Regions from separate parts of the Homo sapiens genome. Here regions 1 and 3 are each linked to region 2. Evidence: fine-mapped QTL for protein levels in blood plasma. A gene starts in region 2. Each other region holds a variant in brackets. All regions are shown on one strand. Distances are between the middles of the regions. Region 1 overlaps ZNF112 (zinc finger protein 112). Region 2 holds the start of PLAUR (plasminogen activator, urokinase receptor). Region 3 holds the start of KCNN4 (potassium calcium-activated channel subfamily N member 4).

Evidence for each region. PIP is the posterior inclusion probability: the model's chance that the variant is causal. The UK Biobank Pharma Proteomics Project read protein levels with antibody pairs (Olink). The fine-mapping took linkage between variants from a reference panel, not from the people measured, so its PIPs are less certain.
Region 1: its variant is fine-mapped to the plasma level of the PLAUR protein (UK Biobank, PIP above 0.99).
Region 3: its variant is fine-mapped to the plasma level of the PLAUR protein (UK Biobank, PIP above 0.99).

Annotation. Positions count from the first base shown.
Region 1 is chr19:44,330,119-44,338,276 of GRCh38, forward strand. It overlaps ZNF112 (zinc finger protein 112), which reads right to left. Exons shown (of 4, transcript NM_013380.4): 3 at 6,505-6,600. Among named protein-coding and RNA genes, the nearest start is that of ZNF112, 22 kb to the right of the region's middle. The variant G/A (reference allele first, on the strand shown) is at 2,795.
Region 2 is chr19:43,668,383-43,676,543 of GRCh38, forward strand. PLAUR (plasminogen activator, urokinase receptor) reads right to left here and starts at 1,787. Exons shown (of 7, transcript NM_002659.4): 1 at 1,684-1,787. The coding sequence starts at 1,738. It overlaps LOC124904724 (a long non-coding RNA gene), which reads left to right and starts at 382. Exons shown (of 3, transcript XR_007067264.1): 1 at 382-801; 2 at 1,644-2,098. RefSeq lists silencers at 286-515, 556-635 and enhancers at 1,556-1,855, 7,052-7,151.
Region 3 is chr19:43,778,605-43,786,775 of GRCh38, forward strand. KCNN4 (potassium calcium-activated channel subfamily N member 4) reads right to left here and starts at 2,369. Exons shown (of 9, transcript NM_002250.3): 1 at 2,099-2,369. The coding sequence starts at 2,257. RefSeq lists enhancers at 757-1,256, 1,615-1,744, 4,108-4,157, 4,298-4,467, 5,813-6,107 and 2 more, silencers at 2,351-2,620, 5,813-6,107 and cis regulatory regions at 4,135-4,601, 6,602-7,049. The variant C/G (reference allele first, on the strand shown) is at 3,827.

The DNA.
Region 1 (8,158 bases), 660 kb after region 2:
TCAATCCAAAAATCTGAAATGTGAAATGCTCCAAAATCCAAAACTTTTTTAATGTTCTACATGATGTTCAAAGGAAATACTCATTGGAGTATTTCAGATTTCTGATTAGGGATGCTCAACTGGTAAGTATAATGCAAATACTCTAAAATCTGAAAATATTTGAAATACAAAACACTTCTGGTCCCAAGCATTTTGGAGAAGGGATATTTAACCTACATACAAATAGCATCTACATAATTCAGGATATCTGATGCCTCAAAATCAGGACTTTGCAGCACGACCTGGACATCGAACATGATGGCTGTGTTCAAAAGGCTTAGTAAAACCATAAACATGGCTGGGCATGGTGGCTCATGCCTGTAACCCTAGCACTTTGGGAGGCCAAGTCGGGTGGATCACCTGAAGTCAGGAGTTTGAGACCAGCCTGGCCAACATGGTGAAACCCCATCTCTACTAAAAGTACAAAAATTAGCCAGGCGTGGTGTTGCACACCTGTAGTCCCCGTTACTGAGGAGGCTGAGGCAGGAGAATAACTTGAACCCATGAGGCAGAGGTTGCAGTGAGCTAAGATCATGCCACTGCACTCCAGCCTAGGCAACAGAATGAGATCCTGTCTCAAACGAAACAAAACAACACAACTATAAACATGTTATCATGGATTAATCATGGGTTTCCAGGAGATCTGAAGGGGAAAAGAGGATGTTCTTAAAACTGGAAAAATATAGTTGCAAATGGACAAACGCCTTTTGTCCTAATAAGTTTTTCTTTTTTGTCTGGCACATAAACATGATAATGTTGTTCATTTGTAAGTGTACTGTGTGCGTTAAATGATATGCTGAAGAAGGTAAATACAGACTTTTACTTTATGTTTGAGGCATCACATATCCTGTCACTAATGAGCTATTTATCCTCATGAGAATAATAAGCTCTTCTTCAGATTATGAGACTAACGCGCTGCCAGCTGCGCTAAGAGGGCTTAGAGAATAATAAGCTCTTCTAAGTCCCTGTAGGCCATTACAGATTTTAACTCTTTTCAAAAGATATTTCACAATTATCAACGGCCATGGTGTAGGTCAAAATGTGAAAGACTGTGACAGAATTCAACTAAAAAAATCAGAAAAAAATTATGGCACCTGTAGGTGTCCTCTGAGGTGCTCATTAGCCAGGAACAGAACTCAATGAATACTGACTTTTGCTTGTGCCATTTTACTGGAAAATTATGTTAGTGTTTAGGAAATTTGAGGCACCAGAAAGGGTTGAAGACAGGATATTTGGGTAGAAATAGTTACCTAGTTATTAAAGCTCAGATTATAAGCAGACAGCAGATCTTCATATACTAGTGACAAATATCCTCCCTAAGGACAACTGGTTAAACAGGGTTGAATTAATAACATGCATTCTTCTAACACTTAGAAGTAGATTAAGTCTCTATAATATCCAGAAGAAAAGCAGTAAAAGGGATGTTTTTTCATGAATATTACCCTCAAACATAATTCTGCCTTATTTCTTTGTGTTTGTCTGCCTCTCCACACTGGAATGTATTATCCATGAAAACAAACACTGTTTTGTGCACTGCATTCCTTTCACTGCCAAGTGAACAGTAGTTGCTCAATAAACATTGATGAATAAATCATAGTTTGAGTTGCTCTCACTCATAGAACTAAAAGAGCATGTAATGTAGCTTTTTAAATGGGAAAGGAACTGGTGATGGTGGCAACTTTGCTGGAAAGCTGAAAGGCTATAGGAGACGTAGGGCGACAATTCAGAGTGATACTGCTGATGAGAAAAGCAAAGGTCACAAGAATCTACTGTGGATGAAATAAAAATGTAAGATCAAAAAGACCCATAGGCAGGGCCTGTGGATTGAGTCTTTCTCATTTTTAAAGTAACTTTTTAAATGGTACAACTGTGAGCCAGGCATGGTGACGCAATCCTGTAGACCCAGCTACTCAGAAAGCTGAGGCAGGAGAAATGCTTGAGCCCAGGCATCTGAGGATGCAGTGACCTATTAATATAATTGCACCTGTGAACAGCCACTGCAACTCCAGCCTGGGCAGCATGGCAAGACTCTGTCTCAAAAAAACCCAAAATGGTGTAATTTTTCTTGAACAAAATCTTACCCGTAAGCCCTACCCTATCCCAACTTTTAAAAAAGGAAAAAAGAAAAGGCCACACTGATGAATCTGTATCACTAGGCTCTGGGGCAGCACACTGATTGTGGGATAACACTTCAAGGTATATCAGTAGGTATGCATCTTGGTACTTTAAAAGCACATTTACTGATGTCTTTGCCTTCTCAAAAGTGAAGCTTTCAGTTATTATAATGATATTTTATCATATAATGATGAAATGAAGGGATATATTATAGGAGGCATATCAGATAAAGTATATAGCTTATATGTGAGAAGTTTGAGCTTCCAGCTAGGGTTAATCATAATCCTTGTAGTTTTGTTTTACTATTATAAAAAACACTCAATATACATCCATAAAGATACAGTTTAATATGTCCTGTCTTTTGGGACTGATGTAGTGGCTTGAGAACATGAAAGTAGCTTGTTAGTCAAAACCCAATTTCTCACAAAGCAACTGTTTCAATGCAAATTAGTACATAATTCATGATATAAAAATCTCTCAAATATATGAGATTAAAGTTTCTCTCTGAGCAGTGGGTTTTGCAATGTTAAGGACATAGAGGAAGAAAAAAAATAAAAGGTCATTTCACTTTGTTTCACACTCTTCTAAAAAAGACCACACATGTAACAACATTAATTTCCTTTAGTCAATGGTATAGACC[G/A]AAACACCTTGTTACTTTATTTAAATAACTCAACATTTAAGTTCTATTTCAATATCAATGGTAGAATGGTAATAAGAAATTGTGTTAAGTTTATAAATGAACTTTATTTGATGGAGAAACTAAGCATGACAAAAGATGCCGAAGACATCATTTGAGGTAAGAAGGTTGAGAATTTATTACATCTTCATAGCAATCCTGCTTTAGCACTTAGAGGTTGAGAAAGTCAATGATTCAAGCAACCCAAATTGATCAATTCAATAACAAAGGTGCTATATTTGTCATAAAGACAAGTAATTCCTTTGAATTTAATAGTTAGCTATAATGAACTCAGAGAAAAAAAATCTTTGTTTATGTCTTCTTCTTCTTCTTCTTTAATAAAAGCTAAGCGAGAACATCAGCTCAGGTTACCCAGGCTGAGATCACCTTCCGTTCTTACTTCGCTTTTAGATAGAGACAATACAAGGTATAGTGGTGACAATGTTTTGATCACAAATATTTAAGCTGCTGTGCTGACTCCTTTCTTAACCACTGATATGGTTTCGCTCTGCGTCCCCACCCAAATCTCATGTTGAATTGTAATTCCCAGTGTTGGAGTTGAGGCCTGGTGGGAGGTGATTGGATCATGGGGGTGCTTTCTAATGGTTTAGCACCATCCCCCAAGTGCTGTCTCGTGACAGAGTTCTCAAGAGATCTGGTTGTTTGAAAGCATGTAGCACTTCCTGCCCTCTTTCTCTTCCTCTTTCTCTGCCATGTAAAACATGCCTCCTTCCCCTTCACCATCTGCCATATTTATAAGTTTCCTGAGGCCTCCCCAGCCATGCTTCCTGTATAGCCTATGGAACCATGAGTCAATTAAACCTCTTTTCTTTATAAATTACCTGGTCTCAGGTAGTTCTTTACAGCAATGGGAGAATGGACGAATAAAGAAAATTGGTACCAGAAAAGTGGGGCATTGCTATAAAGATACCTGAAAACGTGGAAGTCACTTTGGAAACAGGTAATGGGCAGAGGTTGTAATAATTTGGAGGGTTCAGAAGAAGACAGGAAGATGAGGGAAAGTTTGGAATCTCCTAGAGAATTGTTACATGGTTTTGAACAAAATACGGATAGTGATATGGACAGTGAAGTCCAGGCTGAGGTGGTCTCAGATGGAGATGAGGAAGTTATTGGGGACTGGAACTGGTGATATATTTAGATATATTTAGGTTTGTAAATGCATTTATACATTTTCCCAACATTGGTGCTATGCTTTAGCAAAGAGACTGGCAGCATTATGCCTCTGCTCCAAAGATCTGTGGAACTTTGAACTTGATAGGGATGATTTAGGTTATCTGGTGGAATAAATTTCTAAGCAGCAAAGCATTCAAGATGTGGTCTGGCTGCTTCTAACAGCATATGCTCATATTTATGGGCAAAGAGATTATCTGAAACTGGAACTTATATTTAAAAAAGAAGCAGAGCATAAAAATTTGAAAAATTTGCAGCCTGATCATGTGGTAGAAAAGAAAAACCAATTTTCTGGGGAGAAATTCAAGGCTGCAGAAATGTGCCTAAGTAAAGAGGAGCTGAATGTTAATAGCCAAGAAAATGGGGAAAATGCCTCCAGGGCATTTCAGAGCCAGTCATGACAGTCCCTCCTACCACAGGCCTGAAGGCCTAGGAGGGAAAAATAGTTCTGTGGCTCAGGCCCAGGGCCCTGCTGTTTTCTACAGCTGAAGGACACGGCACCCTGCATTGTAGCTGCTCCAGTTCCAGCCATGGCTAAAAGGGGCCAAGGTATAGCTCAGGCCATTGCTTCAGAGGGTGCAAACCCCAAGCCTTGGCAGCTTCCACGTACTGTTGGGCCTGTGGTGTGCAGAGGGCAAGAGCTGAGGCTTGGGAACCTCTGCCCAGATTTCAGAGGATTTATAGAAACACCTGGATGTCCAGGCAGAAGTCTGCTGCAGGGGTGGAGCCCTCATGGAGAACCTCTACTAGGTCAATGGAGAAGGGAAATGTGGGGTTGGAGCCCCCAGAGTCCCCACTGAGGCATTGCCTAGTGGAGCTGTGAGAAGAGGGCCACCGTCCTCCAGACCCCAGACCCACCAACAGCTTCCACCACGTGCCTGGAAAAGATGCAGGCACTCAACGCCAGCTCATGAAAATAGCCAAGTGGGCTATACCCTGCAGAGCCACAGAGGCAGAGATGCCCAAGGCCTTGGGAGCTCATCCCTTGCATCAGCATGCCTGGATGTGAGACATGGAGTCAAAGGAGATTATTTTCGAACTCTGAGATTTAATGACTGCCCTGCTGGGTTTCAGATTGGCATGGGGCCTGCAGCCCCTTTGTTTTGCCTGATTTCTCCCTTTCAGAATGGGGGCATTTACCCAAAGGCTGTAGCCCCATTGTATCTTGGAAGTAACTAGTTTGTTTATTAGAGTATTATGCATCCATTACAAAAACAAGAGTTATAATCTTAGACTGGGAGGGATTTCCCCAAGGTAACGGCAAAGAAGAAAAATTAGTATATTAAAAACAAGAATGTACATAACAAATTTTTACATTAATATGAGGTATATGATCATGTTAGTATAGGTAAAAAAATTAAGGTATTTTAAAAGGTGACATTATGTTCCAGCTGACAGTATCAGGAAGGTAGACTGGCACAGCATGGCCTCGGCCTGTTTCTGTACAACCCAGGAGCCAAGAACGCTTTCTACATTTTTAAAGTGGTGTAAGAAAAACAAAGACTGTGACAAAGAGCACATGTGGCCAGGAAAATCTAAAGTATTTACTACTTGGACCTTTAGAGAAAAAGTTTAACTCCTACTCTCAAGGGTACCATGTAGGACCCTGAATCTTAACCAAGATGGAAACAAACCATTATAGAAATGAGTTAATTTGTTTTGAATTTTCTGTTGACTCTTTCTTCTTATCCAGCAGCATCCTTAGCTACACAGTTGCGACGGTGGCTTTTGATGTCAGTCTTGAGGACTCAAGAAACTATCAAAATGTTTGGATTCACATAAATGTCCAACTTGAAGATTCTACTTTAAGACTGTGGCTATGTCAAGAGATTGTTTGGGTGCGAGAGTATGGGACAGAATGGGAGGATAAGAAGATGGACATATGAATACAAGGGTGTCTCACTTGAAAATGCTGCATGAGGAAGACCAGTTATAATGTTGGCATTGGTCATTTTTGATACTTACTTTAGCTGATTGGCTATTCTTATCTTTTAGGATTAATGGCTACCCATCTATGAATACTCAAGGACAGCTAAGCAGTTAAAACAGGCATCCATCAGATGAGAAACAGTATTCTAGAATACCCTTCAATTACACAGATTTATTCTACACCTATTAGCTGCCTCAGGGTGAATTGAAGAGAGCAAAGATCATGCATCTATTACCCAATTCATTCAGAGAGAAAAGCAAGTCAAGGAAATTGACACAGAAGCATAATTGAGAGGTCTGAGGGGGCAATCATGGGGCAGTGCCTCTGAAACAGACTGAATGAGCAAAAACAAACAATGGTAGGTGAATATGGAAAGTGAGAAGAGGTTGAGGGGACAGATACCTTAGGACCTAATAGACCACTTTAAGTACTTTAAACTTACTATGTGTGAAATGGGGAGCCACAGGAAAGCTTAAACAGAGAAGTGATGTGTTCTGACTCATGTTCTAGAAGGGGCTCCCTGGCTGCTGTGTTCCTGCAGCACAGTTCTCACCTGAACATCCATCTCTTGGGGTTTCTGTCTCCACCATCAAAAGCTTTTCTTCTCTCTCCAGCTGGGATATTAGGTCTGGCTTGAAGGGCTGATGTGCTGTAAAGAAGGAAAGGACAGCAAAAGTTTTTAAGTTTGATGACATTCAATTGGTCAAAACTAGACAAAAAGGTATACACAGACAAGTGAGACTCTCTCCCACATCCCTTCCACCCTGTTACCTTCCACTCACTATAAGAAACTAACTTCATGATTTTCTTTTTTTTTTTTTTAAATAGGCTCTCACTTTTCTGCCTGTGCCAGCATGCAGTGGCATGATCACAGCTCACTACAACTGCAGCCTCAACCCCTGGGCTCAAGCAATCCTCCCACCTGGGCCTCCAGAGTAGCCGGGACCATGGGTGTGCATCATTATGCCCAGCTAAATTTTTTGTAGAGACAGGGTCTCCCTGCATTGCCCAGGCTGGTCCTGAACTCCTGGGTTCAAGCAATCCTCTTGCCTTGGCCTCCCAAAGTGCTGAGATTACAGGTGTGAGCCACCACGCCTGGCCATTATTTTCATTAAACCTTCCTTCTTGTGTTTCTTCTTATAAAAATAAGTATATATATAAAATATATATTATTTTTATATATTACATATATTTTTATATATATTATATATATTTCATATATGTATAAAATATATATATATTTTGTATATGTATAAAATATATATACATTTTGTATATGTGTAAAATATATATTATTATATATATTTTATATATAATAATATATATAATATATATTTTATATATAATAATATATATTATATATATATGTCTGTACCCACACACTGTCTATTTACTTATTTTACCTTATTTCTTACATGAATTGTAGTATACTATTAATATTCTTTTGGACATGGCTATTTTTAGGGAAAATCCCCAGAAATGGGTTGCCGGGGAAGGGTAAATACCTAGCTTTGTTAGATATTGTCAACTTCCCCTCCCTAAGGGTTGTATCATTTTGCATTCTTCCTTTCAACGCATGAATGTTCTTCATTCCCCACAGCTTTGCCAAAAAACGTATAGTGTTACGTTTTTGAATTTTTGCCAATTTCATGGGTGAGAAATGGCATTTCAGTATAATTGTAATGAACATTTCTTTTGAAATAAACTGAACATCTATTCATATGTATACATATTTCTATGTGTGTATATGTGTATGTATATACATACACATACACACACACACACACACACACACACACACACACACACCCTAGCTCTATGTCCTGAGACAAAGAAACATAGATCATAGATACTACAGTGACCATACCTAGCATCCAGACTTTGGCATTAAATACCATTCCCCAGTTAAAAAAAAAAAAAAAAAAAAAGATAATTCCAGAGCCAAGGCAAAGTAAAGATGAGCACAAAATACTGTTCTCTGCCAACAAAGTAAGAAAGTGCTCAAAAAAAAAATTGGGGACATGTTACAAGGTCACAGGAGCCAGCTTAAAGAGGCCAAACTTGGGACAATTTTAACATCTAAAAAATTACAGTAATAAACTATAAACCTTTAAAAAATTTCACAAATCCCTACAAATAACATTGAAATGATGCTTGAGAAGTGGGGGGCTCTTGTTGACTGCAAGTTTATGCCAGGTGCTGACTGC
Region 2 (8,161 bases):
TGACCTTATCTTCCCGCCCCCTAGCTCCTCCCCGATGCCATAACCCCGCCCCTAGCTCCTCCTCGAGGCTTTAGTCCCTCCCTCTAGCTCCTCCTTGAGATTCTAACTTCGCCCTTTAGCTCTCCCCGCCCCTAGTTTTCCCCTGAGGTCATAACTCCGCCCCAGTCCCTTCTTGAGGTTTCAGCCCCACCCTGTAGCTCCTCCCCGAGGTCGTAACCCCCGCCCCTTGGCCCCTTGAGGTCCTAGCCCAGCCCCGTAGCTCCTCCCCAAGCTTATAACCCCGCCCCTAGCCCCTCCTTGAGGTTCCAGCCCCGCCCTCTAGCTCCTCCCCGAGGTTATAATCCTGCCCCTCAAGAGTCTAGTCCCACCTTCTAGCTCCTCCCGAGGTTATAACTCCGCCCTCTGGTTACGCCTCGAGGTTATAACCCCGCCCTCTGGCTCCGCCTCGAGGTTCTAGCCCCGCTCCTAGCTCTTCCTCGGTCTGTAACCTCTCCCGTAGCTCTTCCTTGAGGTTCCAGCCCCGCCCTCTGGCTCCTCCCCGACACTCTCTCCCCGCCCCAGGCTCCGCCCCGAGATTGCAGCCCAGTCCCTAGGCCCGGTCCCCGACCTCCGGGCCTTCCCGGACATCCCTTTCCAGCTGCGCGTTCGGAGTATCCCGGAGCTGTTACTCATTCCCGGCCTCCCGCGGTCTCGAGCGCTTTCCGGGTTATTCATCGCGGCCCCAACACCCTGTGGCCACCCGCCCTGACTCAGTTCCTTCTCGAATTCCTCGACCCAGAGCCCCCCACATTTTCCGGGGAAGTAAGTGAGAGTCGCCTCAGTGAGAGGGAAAGGTCCTGAGGGACAGTCCCGGGTCTCCAGCACTGGCTCTGCGCCGCTCAGTCAGCCTCCCTTTGGGCCTTTTGTAAAAGGGGGTCCTGTCCCCCCGTTTCTCAGAGGGGGAGACCCAGCAGCGTGGAGAGCGCTGGGGGGCGCTGCAGGGTCAGATCCTGCGTATTCAAGCACTGGCTGTGTGATTTTAGGCCAGTTATCTAACCTCTCTGTGCCCTAGTTTCCTCTGCGAAACGAAATTAATAAAGTCCCATCGCCTAGTTTGAAATTGCAAGGAAGAGGCTTCGAAGAACTCCATTTAAAAAAAGAACACTTGGGCCGGGCGCGGTGGCTCACGCCTGTAATCCCAGCAGTTTGGGAGGCCGAGGCAGGTGGATCATCTGAGGTCAGGAGATTGAGACCATCCTGGCTAACAGAGTGAAACCCGGTCTCCACTAAAAATACAGAAATTAGCCGGGCGCGATGGCAGGCGCCTGTAATCCCAGCTACCCAGGAGGCTGAGGCAGGAGAATCGCTTGAACCCGGGCGGCAGAGGTTGCAGTGAGCCGAGATCGCGCCACTGCACTCCAGCCTGGGCGACAGAGTGAGACTCTGTCAAAAAAAAAAAAAAAAAAAAAAAAGCACTCACTAAATTATGTAAAGCTAAATGCCTTTGCTCCACTAATATTTCCTTAGCTACTGAGTGCCAGGTACTGCGCCGCGTGGCGTTGCACAAAGCACGAGAATTACTATTATTTGATTAGGGAGGATGCTGAGGACTGAACCGCATTCCTCCAACTCATCCTCTGACAACCCCCAACCCCCTCAATTAGACCCTGTTCCAGGCGCAGGCGTTCGGGACCCAGCCCCTACCTGGGACGCAGGTGTGGAGCAGCAGCAGCAGCGGCAGCAGCGGCGGGTGACCCATGTCGCGAGGGCAGCTCCTGTGCGCGGGGTCCCTGCACGTCTTCTCTCCTTCTGGCCTCAGGAAGGAGGCAGTTTTGTGGCCCCAGGGACTCCTCCCAGACGTTTTGCGAAAGAGCGAGTCAGCCCCAGATGCGTGGGCGCCTCCCCCTCCTCCCGTACGAACCTCCTCCGCCACAAACTTCCCTTCCCGGGGCGCGGCCGGCTGGTGGTGAAGGGGCTGGCTCGGCCCTGACTCATGGAGTTGTGATCACAGCTCTGTCCCCAGATTGCCTGGGTGCAAATCCCAGTTCTCTCTCTTCCTAACGTGGGACCCGGGGCAATCGCTCTCCACTGCTGTAAAATGAGGATAAAAACTTTGACGGTAAATATGAATGTGGCTGATTATTTGGCTAACAGGATTTTTGTTAGTTTTGTCAGGAGGGATACTGGTATTTTGGAAAATGTCCTTATCTAGAGATGCATCCTGAAATATGCATCTCTTAAACACTTAAAACACTTAACCCTTGCTTTGCTTCCCGCTGTGCCCCCAGCTCCTGGACCAGTGCCCAGCACGAAGTAGGTCCTTGGTAAATGTTAAAGGAATGTGTTGAGCCCTCCATTTTGGCCAGCAGCTATTCCAGGCATTGCACCTACATTAAAACACTTAATGGTGAAACCCCGTCTCTACTAAAAATACAAAAATTAGCCGGGCGTAGTGGCGTGTGTGTGTTACTTAGGAGGCTGAGGCAGGAGAATCGCTTGAACCCGGGAGGCGGAGGTTGGGTTGCAGTGAGCCGAGATCGTGCCACTGCACTCCAGCCTGGCAACAGAACAAGACTCCTTCTCACAGAAAAAAAAAAAAAAAAAAAAAAAGACACTTCAGCCAAAAAAGTAGATATCACTGTTACGACAATGGCTGTATGCTTAGGTGGGATTCTGGTTTTTGTTTGTTTGTTTGTTTTTGCAGATGCTTACTAGAGTATTTAGTGGTGAATGTTATTGATGTCTGCATTTTTTGTTGTTGTTGTTTTGGGGATTTTTGTTTTGTTTTTTCTTTTTCTTTTGTTTTCATTTTGATGTCTGTATTTATTTTATAATATTTTAGAAGAGGTCAGATGAGGTGGCTCATGCCTGTAACACCAATGCTTTGGGAAGCCAAGGCAGGAGGATCACTTGGGGCCAGGAGTTCAAGATCAGCTTGGGAAACATAAAGAGCCCTCATCTTTCCAAAAGAAATTAAAAATAAAATAAAATTAGCTGGGTGCAGTGGCCCGTACTTGTAGTCCTAGGTAGTTGGGAGGCTAAGGTGGGAGGACCGCTTGAACCTGGGAACTGGAAGCTGCAGTGAGCTATGATTGCACCACTGCACTCCAACCTGGGCAACAGAGCGAGACCCTGTCTCAAAAAAATAATAAATAAATAAATACTTGAGTAGAAAATAAAGGCAAAATAGCCAAATGGTTGTATCAATTATATAAAGGTAATCAGTATATAAGGGCATATTATGCCATTCTGTCTCCTTTTCTGTGGGTTTGAAAAGGCTTATAATAAGTTTTTTCTTTCTTTTTATTATTTATTTATTTATTTATTGAGACGAAGTCTCACTCTGTCACCCAGGCTAGAGTGCAGTGGTGCAATCTCGGCCACTGCAATCTCCGCCTCCTGGGTTCATGCAATTCTCCTGCCTCAGCCTCCTGAGTAACTGGGATTACAGGGGCACGCCAGCACACCCGGCTAATTTTTGTATTTTTAGTAGAGATGGGGTTTCACCATGTTGGTCAGGGTGGTCTCGAACTCCTGACCTCAGGTGATCCACCTGCCTTGTCCTTCCAAAGTGCTGGGATTACAGGCATGAGCCACTGCACCTGGCCAAGTTTTTTTTTTTTTTAAGTAAAATAAAATACTAAAGATAAAATTGTCTCCCCGTCTTAGGATGCATCTAACTAAACAGAGCAATTTAATGTAGGTGCAATGCCTGGAATAGCTGCTGGCCGAAATGGAGGGCTCAACACATTCCTTTAACATCTACCAAGGACCTACTTTGTGCTGGGCACTGGTCCAGGAGCTAGGGGCACAGCAGGACGCAAAGCAAAGTTCCCACCTTTTGTTGTGTTGACAGTGGGGAGCAGATATGTGTTATCTAATCTTTCACTGTCTGAGAGGGATAAGCAAACTGGAGAAAACAAAGCAGGCTGAAGGAAGTATCTGGGTGCAAATGAGGTGTGAGCTGTTTTAGGTGGGTGATCCAGGAGGGGTTCCCTGAGCAAGTGGCATTCAAGCAGAGGCTGAATGCAGTGAGGGAAGAAGTAGGGCAGATGGGCAGGGAACCTTTCCAAGGAGCAGGAACAACCAGTGCAAAGGCCTTGAGGTGGAAGCCTGATGAGATTCTAGGAACAGAAGAGATGTCAGTGTGGCTGGAACAGATTAGGAGAGGAAGAGAGTCGTAGGGGATGAGTAAGTGGTAGCTACTTCTACTGCTGTAATAATGATTATACTATGTGATTTGTTGTCGTTGTTGTTGTTGTTTTTGAGACAGAGTCTCACTTTGTCTCCCAGGCTGGATGCAATGGCGTGGTCTCGGCTCACTGCAACTTCCACCTCCCAGGTTCAAGGGATTCTCATGCATGCCTGGCTATTTTTTTTTTTTTTTTGAGTCGGAGTTTCTTTCTTGTTACCCAGGCTGGAGTGCAATGGCACGGTCTCGGCTCACTGCAACTTCTGCCTCCCAGGTTCAAGAGGTTCTCCTGCCTCAGCCTCCTGAGTAGCTGAGATTACAGGCATTCTCCACCATGCCTGGCGAATTTTTTGCATTTTTAGTAGAGATGGGGTTTCACCATGCTGGCCAGACTGGTCTTGAACTCCTGACTTCAGGTGATCCACCCGCCTCAGCCTCCCAAAATGCTGGGATTACAGGCTTGAACCACTGCGCCCAGCCCTAATTTTTGTATTCTTAGTAGAGATGGGGTTTCGCCATGTCGGCTAGGCTGGTCTCGAACTCCTGACTTCAGATGATCAACCTGCCTCAGCCTCCCAAAGTGCTGGGATTACAGGGGTGAGCCACCGCACCCGGCCCTAATTTTTGTATTGTTAGTAGAGATGGGGTTTCACCATGTCTGCCAGGCTGGTCTCTAACTCCTGACTACAGGTGATCCACCCACCTTGGCCTCCCAAATTGCTGAAATTACAGACATGAGCTACCGCTTCCAGCCTGTACTATGTGATTCTTACTAACTCATTGAAGCTGTAAGCTAATGATTTTAAGATAAGGTTAGAAAACAAAAAACAAAAAAACTCCCAATGGTGAGCACAGTGGTTCATGCCTATAATCTCAGCACTTTGGGAGGCGAAGGCTGGAGGATTGCTTGAGCTCAGGGGTTCGAGACCACCCTGGGCAACATAGTAAGACCTTGTATCTATAAAAAAATAAAATTACAGCCTGGACAACATAGCGAGACCTTGTCTCTATGAAAAATAGAAAAATTAGCCAGGTGTCGTGGTGCACACTTGTGGTCTCAGCTACTCTCTGGTTGAGGTGGGAGGATCACTTGAGCCCCAGGGGTTTGAGGCTGCAGTGAGCCAAAATCGAGCTACTGAACTCGAGCCTGGGCAACAAAAGTGAGACTGAAAAAAAAAAAAAAAAGAACTCCCAGAGAATTTCCTAAGAGGTAGTATAGCCCAATGGTTAAGAGTGTGGGAGCTGGTCTCAGATTGTGAAAATCTAAATTGCATCTACATATTGGCTGTGTCACCTCTAGCAGGTTACTTAATCTATCTCTGTGCCCAAGCCCCTTATCTGGAAAGTAGAGATAGCAAGTATCACCCTCCCAGGGCTGGTGTACTGCGGAGGTAAAAGAATCCACCTAAAATGACTGAGCATGGTGGCTCATGTCTATAATACCAGTGCTTTGGGAGACCAAGGCAGGTGGATCACTTGAGGTCAGGAGTTCAAGACCAGCCTGGCCACCATGGCAAAACCCTGTCTCTACTAAAAAATACAAAAAAATTAGCTAGGTGTGGTGGCATGCACCTGTAGTCCCAGCTACGCAGGAGGCTGAGGCACGAGAATTGCTTGAACCTGGGAGGCAGAGATTGCAGTGAGCCGAGATCGCACCACTCCACTCCAGCCTGTGCGACAGAGCTAGACTCCATCTAAAACAAACAAACAAACAAACAAAAAGAAGAATGCTCCTAAGATGCTTGCCACAGTGCCTGGTACATAGTATGTGCTCAATAAAAGCGATAGCTGCCAGTATTATCATTGTTGCAACTCTGGACATTCACCTCTTCCTGGAGTAGGAAGGGAGATGGAGGCCTGTCATTGAGTCTGACGTCAACAGTTATCACGCGTCAGCTGCTGAAGTGGGCACTTCCCTGGCTGGGTCACCCTGGGCCAATGACATTCTTCTTTCTGAGCCTCAGTTTTCTCAGCTGGAGAAGGGGATCCCTCTTGGGCTGGTGTGAAAACTAAACTAGATCGGAATGTACATGAGGTGGGGAAATAGACAGTTGGGGTGTTGGTCCAAGCAGGCTTGAGACCCAGCTCAGCCACTTGCTTCTGGGTGACCCTGGGCAGATGGCTTCACTCCATCAATCCCCGGCTTTGCCACCTATGAAATGGGTCTGGGGTGGGTAGGGGGCATCTCTCAGTGAAGAGAAAACTCAGGTTTGAGGGTCATGCGGAGCTGTGTGCTGTGCTGCTACCACTTCCTGGTGGGATGACCTCACTTCTCTAAGCCACAATTTCCCAATTTCCCTTTTTTTTTTTTTTTTTTTTTTTTTGAGACAGAGGCATGATCATAGCTCACTGCTGCCTTGAACTCCTGGGCTCAAGCGAAACTCCCACTTCAGCCTCCTGAGTAGTTGGGACCTAGGGGTGTGCACCACCATGCCTGGCTATTTTCTCATATTTCGTGTTTTTTGTAGAGATGGAGCCTTGGTCTGTTCCCCAGGCTGGTCTTGAACTGCTGGGTTCGAGTGATCCTCCCGCCTTGGCCTCCCAAAGTGGTGGGATTACAGGTGTGAGCCACTATGCTCAGCCAATTTCCTCTTTAACGAATGAGAGGTATTTCAGAGCCCACTCATCCCTGCCCAAGGCTGCCCTCGCCTCCTGAAATTTCTGTCTCTCCCTGTGTCTTTGTCTTTTTCTATCTCTCTGTTTTGTTGTTTTCTTTGTCTCTGTCCCTCTTTCTCTCTCTCAATGCCTATCTCTCTCTCTCTCCAACTCTATCACTTTCTCTCTCTGTACCTCGATCTCTGTATCTGTTTGTCTCTCTCTTCATGTCTTTTTATCTCTGCTTCTCCCTTTTCTCTGTCTCTCCCCATGGCTCTCTTTCTCTTTCTGTGTCATTGTTTCTGTTTCTCTTTCTGATTCTTTCTCTCTGTCTCTCCCTCAAGTGACACACACACACACCTGTAAGGTTCTGCTGACGTGTAAAGGGAAGGGAAATGCAGGGATCAGGACCTGGACACTCTCCAGAAACACGGCAGGGATGTCGGCTCCTTCCTCCTCGTGACTCACCTGGGCCTCACCCAGCTCTTGCCTGCCTGCGGGATCATGGGTGAGGCCCATGGGTTTCGGGGGCTTCCCCAGCCTGTGGAGAGGAGAATTTCAGGCAGAGACAGAGAGGGTGATAGAGGAGGAGGCAAAGAGAGGGAGAGACAGAGAGAGAGAGAGAGAGCTGGGGATAGAGATGGAGGTGGGGAAACGAGGGAGAGGGAGAGAGAAGAGACCCACAGACAGACTGGCTCAGGGGAAATCTGAGATGGGGGTGTGGGGGGAGTGAGAGAGACAGAAAACAGCAACCGAAGAACAAGGACAGGGAGAAAGAAAAATGGGCAAGCAGGGAGAGAGAGAAGATAAGAGACTGACAGAGGAGTTAGAGAAAACAACACACAGTTGCCTTCAGAGAACACAAAATAGACACAGAGATACAGGGACACTGTGTGTGTGCGTGTGTGCATGTGTGCGCGTGTGTGCATGCGTGTGCATGTGTGTGAGTGTACGTGCATGCGTGTGTGCGCACACATGTGTTTGTGTGCATGTGTGTGCATGTGTGTGTGCGCGCACGTGTTTGTGTGCCTGTGTGTGTGTGTGTGCATATGTGCATGTGTGAGTGTGTGTATGCATGCATGTGTGTGAGTGTGCCTGCATGCATGCGTGTGTGTGTGTGTGTGCACCTGTTTGGGGCTCCCTCATCCTCTTGCCACCTGCCATGATGAAGTGACTGCCCTCTGGCCTGGCCGCTGGGAAGGTCCTTCTCTGGTTGGGGAGGTGGGGGGGATGGGGGGTGGCTGAGCTGATGGTAGGGAAAGGGCCATCGCTCATAACCTCCCCTTTCTGGGACGCCTAACAGGCCACACTGATGTGGCTTTCAGATCCTGGCCTGGACACCTCTTAGATGTAGAGGACCTCTCCACTCAGGGCCTCCCTGGGGAGTGGAAGAGC
Region 3 (8,171 bases), 110 kb after region 2:
CCTATTTGTCTTTCTCTTTAGCTGTACTTCTCTATCTTTCTGCATTTTTGTCTCCATCTCTCTTTTTCTCTCCATGTATCTCTGTGTCTCTGTCTCTCTCTGTACCTCTCCCCATCCCTCCTCCTCCACCCCACCTGGTGCTTTTGGATATCTCTATCCAGTTCCCTTGGACTCCCTAGGGTTTTGCACCTGCCTCTCTGCCAGCCCCTCCCCCTGGGGAGCAGGTGTCTGGGTCCTTTGCAGAAATGAGCTCATTAGATTGAGATGGAGGTGGTGAGGGGCGGTGGATGTTATTAAGAGAGTCCTCAAAAGGGGACTGAGGAGCTGTGGCTCAGGCCTGTAATCCCAGCACTTTGAGGCAGGAGGATTGCCTGAGTCCAGGAGTTCAAGACCAGCCTAGGCAACAAAGCAAGGTCCCATCTCTACATAAAATAAAAAGGGTGGAGGGTGACCCTTAGGGTCATGTATTTTAACCCTCACCCCAATTTACAGATGGGGAAACTGAGGTTCAGAGGGTTGTAACAGCTTCCCCAAGGTCCCACTGATAGAGGCAGTGGCCTGGCCATGGTGGAGGGAAGGAAGAAATGAGGGGTGAGAAAGCAGAGGGGTGAAGTGGGGTAGGATGGACCCCGTCTCTTCCCATCTGCCAGGGTCACTGTGTTCCCACCTCGGCTTCTGGGTGCGGTGCTTCGGCGTGGGAGCGGCGGGCAGGCCCCGGCCATGCTTCCTGTTGGCATGGACTTCGGCGGCCCCACCCCCTCAGTGCCCGCCGCCTGCCAGAGGAAGCTGCATGCCTGACCCTCCATGTGGCTCCTGGTCACTTCAGAGCTGCCCACCACCCCCTCCAGATCCAAGTCGGAACATCAGACCCTCAGGAATCTACCCAATCTTCATATCAGTGTCCGCATCTGGCCCTACCAGCCCAGTTCCACAACCCTTCTGCCAGAGAGGTCTCCAGCCCCTCCTTTCCTGTTGAGCAAGTCTGTTCTCCCCTCAAGCCACTTATTCCAACCCTTGTCCTTGATCTGCCCCATCACTGGCCTGACCAGGGCTGGAATGTGACGGGAGCCTGCTGAGACCTGCCCTGACCCCACTTTCCCCTTTCTTCCCTACTCACCACTCATCTTCGGAGTCAGCCCCTCTTCCCCAAAAGCAATCAAAACCCCCTTCTCCTTAAGACTCAGGAATCCAGGACCCAGCCCCCTCCTCTCCTGGTACCTAGGAGTCCAGGCCACTGTAAGCCTACCTCTCCACTATTTCCCTGACTAATCAGCATGCAGATTTGGGGAGAAATTGAGCTTGTTAACAGTGGAGACTGGGTTGGGGTTGGTGGGGGGAGGCAGGTCGGGGGAGAGGTTTGTTTCCCATTTCCCATCCCCACCCCCAAGGCAGTTTTTTCTGTCCTTTGCATCTAAGGCACTGGGTAAACATTAGAGGTTAGACAAGGACCAAAGAGCTGCCGCCTACTGGAAGAACTTTGTCTTTCCTCCACTCTCCCTTCACCAAACCTGGGGCTACCTCTCCCCTTATTGGCTCTTGGGGGGCTTGAGTGTCTGATCAGCCACCCTCTGGCCTCCAGGGGTCCTGGACCTCTGGCCGTCTAATGGCAACATCTTCAAAGACTGAAACACTGAAACAAATATTCCCTTCCTTTTGCAGAGAAGGACCCCAGCAACTGTCTCCTGGGAGCACCCAGGAGTCCCAGCCAAAGCCCCTCCTCCCTCAGACCCAAGAGTCTAGGCCCCCAACCTCTCCTCCCTCAGATCCAGGAGTCCTGACCCCCAGCCCCTCCTCCCTCAGACCCAGGAGTCCAGACCCCAGCCCCTCCTCCCTCAGACCCAGGAGTCCTGACCCCCAGCCCCTCCTCCCTCAGACCCAGGAGTCCAGGCCCTCAGTCCCTCCTCCCTCAGACCCAGGAGTCCAAGTCCCCAGTCCCTCCTCCCTCAGACCCAGGAGTCCTGACCCTCAGCCCCTCCTCCCTCAGACCCAGGAGTCCTGACCCCCAGCCCCCCCTCCCTCAGACCCAAGAGTCCTGACCCCCAGCCCCTCCTCCCTCAGACCTAGGAGTCCCAGCTCCCAGCCACCATGCCCCACTCACCGAGCACCCCCCGAACCACAGCATCTCTGCATGCAGCACCATGAGTCCAATGCCAGTTCCTGCCAGCACCAGTGCCCAGCCGGCCAGAGACTTCTCCTGCTCCAGCAAGCGCTTTCGGCGTCTCAAGGCCCCCAGGCCAAGCACCAGATCCCCGCCCATGGCCCCCGGGGTCTTGGGGCTCAGCCAGCTTCCTGCCCAGGGTCCCCCACCTCGCAGCACGCACAGGGCAGCCACTGTGGCTTGCAGGTCGTCAGCCTGCTCTGCTGGCTCTGGGACTTTTGCTCTGAGGCACAGCAGAGCCCTGTGCCCTCTGGGGAGTGGTGACGGCCAGGCAGGGCGGGGAGGGGCAGGGGAGGCCCCAGGGTAGGGGGAGGCTCCCCAGCTCCCCCTTTTGAGAATAAGGAGGGGCTAGGGTGTGTCTTGGGGCAGAGCAAGAAAGAGACGTCCATCCACGTGGATAAAGACACACACAGACACACGATGGGCTTTGTCACACACAATGGTCTGTACTTTGTGACACACACCTCTACTCACCACACCCAGACACCGAAGGACACTCCACAGCCCAAGACGGAGACTAACACACCAGGGCACACAACACAACCTACACAGAGTGACTCACAACTCCCAGCAAGCTCTGAAACCCACAGCCACACCCAGACACCACACACATGGTGTGACACACACCAGCACTTAGCAAGCAGGCAGTATCCCGTGGCACACACAGCCACCCAAACACCGTCCACACACAGGCACAAATATTACACTCAAAGTTGTCACAACTTTCTCTGACACAAAGAGCCACACCCAAACACCACAAATAGGACGATGCACAACTGTGGCCACACAAACACAACATACACCAGGTGTTACACAAACACACAATATATATTAAAGTAGTGACGCCCTGATGCCACACACCACACACCGACACAAACACTGTGCAGTCCCAGTTTCCTAAACACTACACACCCTTGGAACGAAACCCAATACGTGTAGACACACAACATTTAGGGACATACCTATAGTAGCCCCCAATCACCCAGAGCTAGAGAATTGCACATACATTGTGGCGCCTGTTGACTCGAACACAAGTGCTCGCAGTGATGATTCAAAACACGCACTGATTCAGCATGCTCTGATGTGTGGTGCGATTCAAATGTATGGTCAGAGGACAAGCTGAGTGGATGCATGCAGAGACCTACAAGGTACAGCGACACACGGAGAAACCCAAGAAGCACATGCCTGAAGCAAGATGATTCTGGTATATTCTGGCCACACAGGACAACATCCAGGATGATGCCCTGGGGGAAGGGGATGGGGTTGGACCTTCATAGACCCCAGTGCCCAAATGCAACATACGGCTGGGTGCAGTGGCTCATGCCTGTAATCCCAGCAGTTTGGGAGGTTGAGGTGGGAGGATTGCTGGAGCCCAGGGGTTTGAGACCAGCCTGGGCAACATAGCAAGATCCTATCTCTAAAACAAGCAAAAACAAAAAAACAAACGCAACATACACCATCACCTCTGAGCCATGAGCCACACCCAAACATGACATACAATACCTCCACACAACCCAACACGTTATATTCCAACATGCGTGGCCACACAACAACATACGCGGAGTAATACACCAGCACACAGTAACGCAAAACACATAAACACAATGTTTTCCAACACACCCAACCTTCCACAAACGACCACATGTCCCATAAAACACCAGATGTCAC[C/G]ACTCACTGATACTACTGACACTGAGGTCTACCGCCACCCACACAACACCAGCATCGGGGGAGGGGGGTGTATCCTCTGACACAACATAACACACAGCTACACAAACACAAGACACTTGGGGTGGTTGGCACTCAGGGTGGGTGCTGGGGGCTGAGAAGGAAGAGGCCCCCAACAGGGACATGGACCCTGACGTGAGATACAGCAAATGCCAGTGTGGAATGTGCACGGTGACTCTCAGAGCAACACACAACATAGGACATCTCCATGTGTCGCAGCACGAGCCACTCATGGATCTGTACACCATACGCTCCGACACAGATCAAACCCTCCTGTGGAGACACACAGGCATGCACTGACCTGGTGACGCACATCACCTCCCAGCATCATGCACTGAACTGGTGACACTGCCCTTGGCCTCATGCACACCCCTCTGCAAGGAACCTGCGGACACAACCCTCCCCCTCCTTGTGTCCTAGGTCGTGTGGGACCCTGGACCCACCAGCCCCAGGGAAGCGAGACACGCACAGACATGTCTGACTGCACACCAAGGCAGCCCACACAAACACACCCAGAGACACCAAACCATACACATGGACACGCCCAGTGGCAAAAACACAACCCTTGCGGGGGCTCCGCCCCTCGGCACACACAATTACCCACTCGGCGAGACTTGGCGGGAGAGGGCTGGAGACACACCCGGGCGCGCCCAGACACCACACATGCGTCCACTTGGGGAAAGTGCAGCCGCCGGGCACTCCTGAGCCTGCAGCCTGGGCACCCCTGCCCACTGGCCGCCCGGCTCGCTGCGTCTCTCTCCTCCCTCTCCGGCTCTTTCTCTGGTTCTTTGGGACTTGCTTCCTGTCTCAGTCTCTCCTGATCTGGAAACCTCCGCGTTTGTCTTTTTTTTTTTTTTTTTTTTTTTTGAGATAGAGTCTTGCTCTGTCTCCCATGGCTGGAGTGCAGTGGCACGATCTCGGCTCACTGCAACCTCCACCTCCCAGGTTCAAGCAATTCTCCTACCTCAACCTCCCGAGTAGCTGATATTACAGGTGTGCACCACCACACCCAGCTAATTTTCGTATTTTTAGTAGAGACGAGGTTTCACCATGTTGGCCAGGCTGGTCGTGAACTTCTGACCTCAGGTGATCCACCCGCCTCGGCCTCCCAAAGTTCTGGGATTACAGGCGTAAGCCACCGTGCCTGGCCAGGTTTGTCTTTATCTCTGTCTCTGTTCTTCTCTCCTGGTACCTTTGTCTCTCTCTGTCTCTCTTCACTCTGTCTCTCTGTCTCTGCCTCTCTTAGCCTCTCTGTGTCTCTCTCATCGCTCTGTCCCTTTCTCCATCTTCGTGTCCCTCTCTGCTCCTCTGTTTCCTTCTTTCCCCGTCACTGTCTCTCTGTCATGTCTCTCTCTGTGTTCATCATTGCCTGTGTCTCTGTCATCGTGTCTCACTCTGTCTCCATCTCTCCGTCTCTAGGGCCCTCTGTTTTTGTCTGTCTCTTGCTGAATCGGTGTTTCTCTCCGTCTCTGTTTCACTCTCTCCCTGCCTCCTGGTCTCCTCTTGGGTCTCTCTCTCTCTCTCCGGGCCTCTCTATGCTTGTCTCTGCCTCAGTTTCTCTCTGCTGTTCACTGGCACATCTACGGACAGCCTGGTTCCTTCCGGTTCTACCCCAGTCCCACTCAGGGGTTGAGGGCCAGTGATCCAGAGACTGTGGCCACCCAAGGGTCAGAAGCCACTAAATAGCGCTCCAGCTGCGGCCATGCCATGGCATCTGTGCCCCAGTTCAGGCACTTGTGAAAAACGGAGACAGAGACTGACACAGAGGGAGAGAGAGATAATCAGAGAGACCTCGAGGCATTCAGCCAGGGATGGTGGGGGCATGTATTAAAAAAAATCAAAGAGACCCACAGGTGCAGAGAAACCGGAAAACACAATCAAGACACGGAAGTTAGAGCACAGAGAAATTTTGTCTCCAAATAGGCCATGACTGAAAGAGAAAAACAGCAAAGGATGGGCATGGACATGCCTGGGTGGCAGTGATGGGGTTACAGTGGGAAGGGCACCTGCCTTCAAACTGCAGTCCTGGGATGCAGGGGTCAGTCCTAGGAAACTGCTTCACTCCTCAGCCAGCTGCCTCCAGCCCAGGGAGGGGCCAAGGGGGGAGGGCGAGGTGACTCAGGGCCTCAGGGCTTCTTGTGACTCACCCTTGGTCTCAATCCTAGAATGGGGAGTGGAGGGAGAGAGGGGTTTGTGTAAAAGAGAGGGAGAGGGAATAGTAGAGGACCTCAAAATGCCTAAGAGGAAGGGTCCAGGAGGAAGAAGCTGGGGGTCTGGACTCCTGGTTCTGAGGGAGGAGGGGGTCTGAGGGAGGAGGGGCTGGGGTCTGGACTCCTGGGTCTGAGGAAGGAGGGGATGGGGTCTGGACTGCTGGTCTGAGAGAGGAGGGGCAGGGGGTCTGGACTCCTGGTTCTGAGGGAGGAGGGGGGCTGGGGTCTAGACTGCTGGTCTGAGAGAGGAGGGGCTGGATCTGGACTCCTAGGTCTGAGGGAGGAGGGGCTGAGGCCTGGACTCCTGGGTCTGAAGGAGGAGGATCTGGGGTCTGGACTCCTGAGTCTGAGGGAGGAGGGCTGGGGCCTGGACTGCTGGTCTGAGGGAGGAGGTGCTGGGGTCTGGACCCCTGGGTCTGAGGGAGGAGGGGCTGGGTCTCATACACTGGAAGAACTGATTCCAGAGTCTCCAGGATTTTTCCTTGGCCTTGTCCCAGCTGCACCACCTCTGTCGCAGCCCCATCTCCGGGCCTGGAAAGAACCCAGGTGCCTCGGGGCCCAGCAGGAAGGGGCCAGGGACAAAGAGTTGTTTAACTGGGCAGGCTGGTGAAGGAGAGTGAAGAGGGTGTCTCAGGCGGAAAGGTCATTCATCGCCCAAGGCTTGTGCAGGGAAAGGCAGGGCTGAGCCCCGAGGAAGAGATCCTGAAAGTCAGAGGTCAGTGGCGGCAAATCCTCCACCGCCATCTCTGGGACCTTGGAGCCTGGAAGCTCCAGGGCTTATAAATACTGTCACCTAGTGTTCACTTAGGCAACTGCAGACACTCTCCCTGTCCAGCCTGGTTTCTTGCCAACATAGAGCAAAACACCTACTGAGTGCCAGGCACTGCTCAAGGAGTTGGCGATATGTAATGAACAAAAATGGACAAAATTCTTGCTCTTGTGGAGTTTCCAGGCTAAAGGAGGGAGACCTCGTGATTCCATCAATCTCAGTCTCTTCTTTGCTCTCAGTCTTCATTTTTCTCTCTGTATATCATTGTCCTTGTTTTTTCTTTCTTTCTCTTTTTCTTTCTTTCTTCTTTCTCTCTCTCTTTCTTTTTTCTTTTCTTTCTTTCTTTCTTCTCTCTCTCTCTTTTTAATTAAAAAACATTTTTTTGGTCATAAAATCAGTTCCCACTATGTTGCCAGGCTGGTCGCGAACTCCTGGTCTCAAGCCATCCTCCTGCCTCGTCCTCCTAAGGTGCTGGAATTACAAGTGTGAGCCACTGCGCCTTGTCTTGCTTCTCTGTTTCTATCTCCTGGTCTTAGTCTCCAAGTGCATGCTTTTCTCCTTTCTCCTTTTTTCTTCATTTCTGCTTTTATTTTCTTCTTTGTATCTCTGTGTTCCCCGCCAGTTAAAAATGTATGTATATTATGTTATTACACAGAGACATACACCCACACTCTATATATAGTATATGCAGATATGTAGTATAGTATATGGCATAGTATACAGATGTATAGTGTATACAGATGTATATGATATACAGATATCTATATCTCACAATATGGAAGTCTAGAGACCTCGGTTTAAGCCTCGATGTGACCACTGACTTTATTCATTCATTCATTCATTCATTCAAGACAGAGTCTCGCTCTGTCACCCAGGCTGGAGTGCAGTGGCACGATCTTGGCTCACTGCAACCTCCACCTCCTGGATGCAAGCGATTCTCCTGCCTCAGACTCCCAAGTAGCTGGTACTACAGGCATGCACCACCACACCAGGCTAATTTTGGTATTTTTAGTAGAGACGGGGTTTCACCATGCTAGCCAGGCTGATCTTGAACTTCTGACCTCAGATGATCCACCTGCCTCAGCCTCCCAAAGGGCTGAGATTAGAGGGATGAGACACCACCCCCGGCCTAACTTTATTTTTGTATGGAATATGTTATACGTACAGCCTGGTTTAGAGACAAACCTGAGTTCAAACCTAGTTGCCATCCATAGTTGTGTGCTCTGTGAAACTTGTAAAAGAGGGATTATGTTTCCTATGTGACAGGGCTGCTTGAGGCTTAGGTGAGAGAGAATGTCTGGAGCCCTAA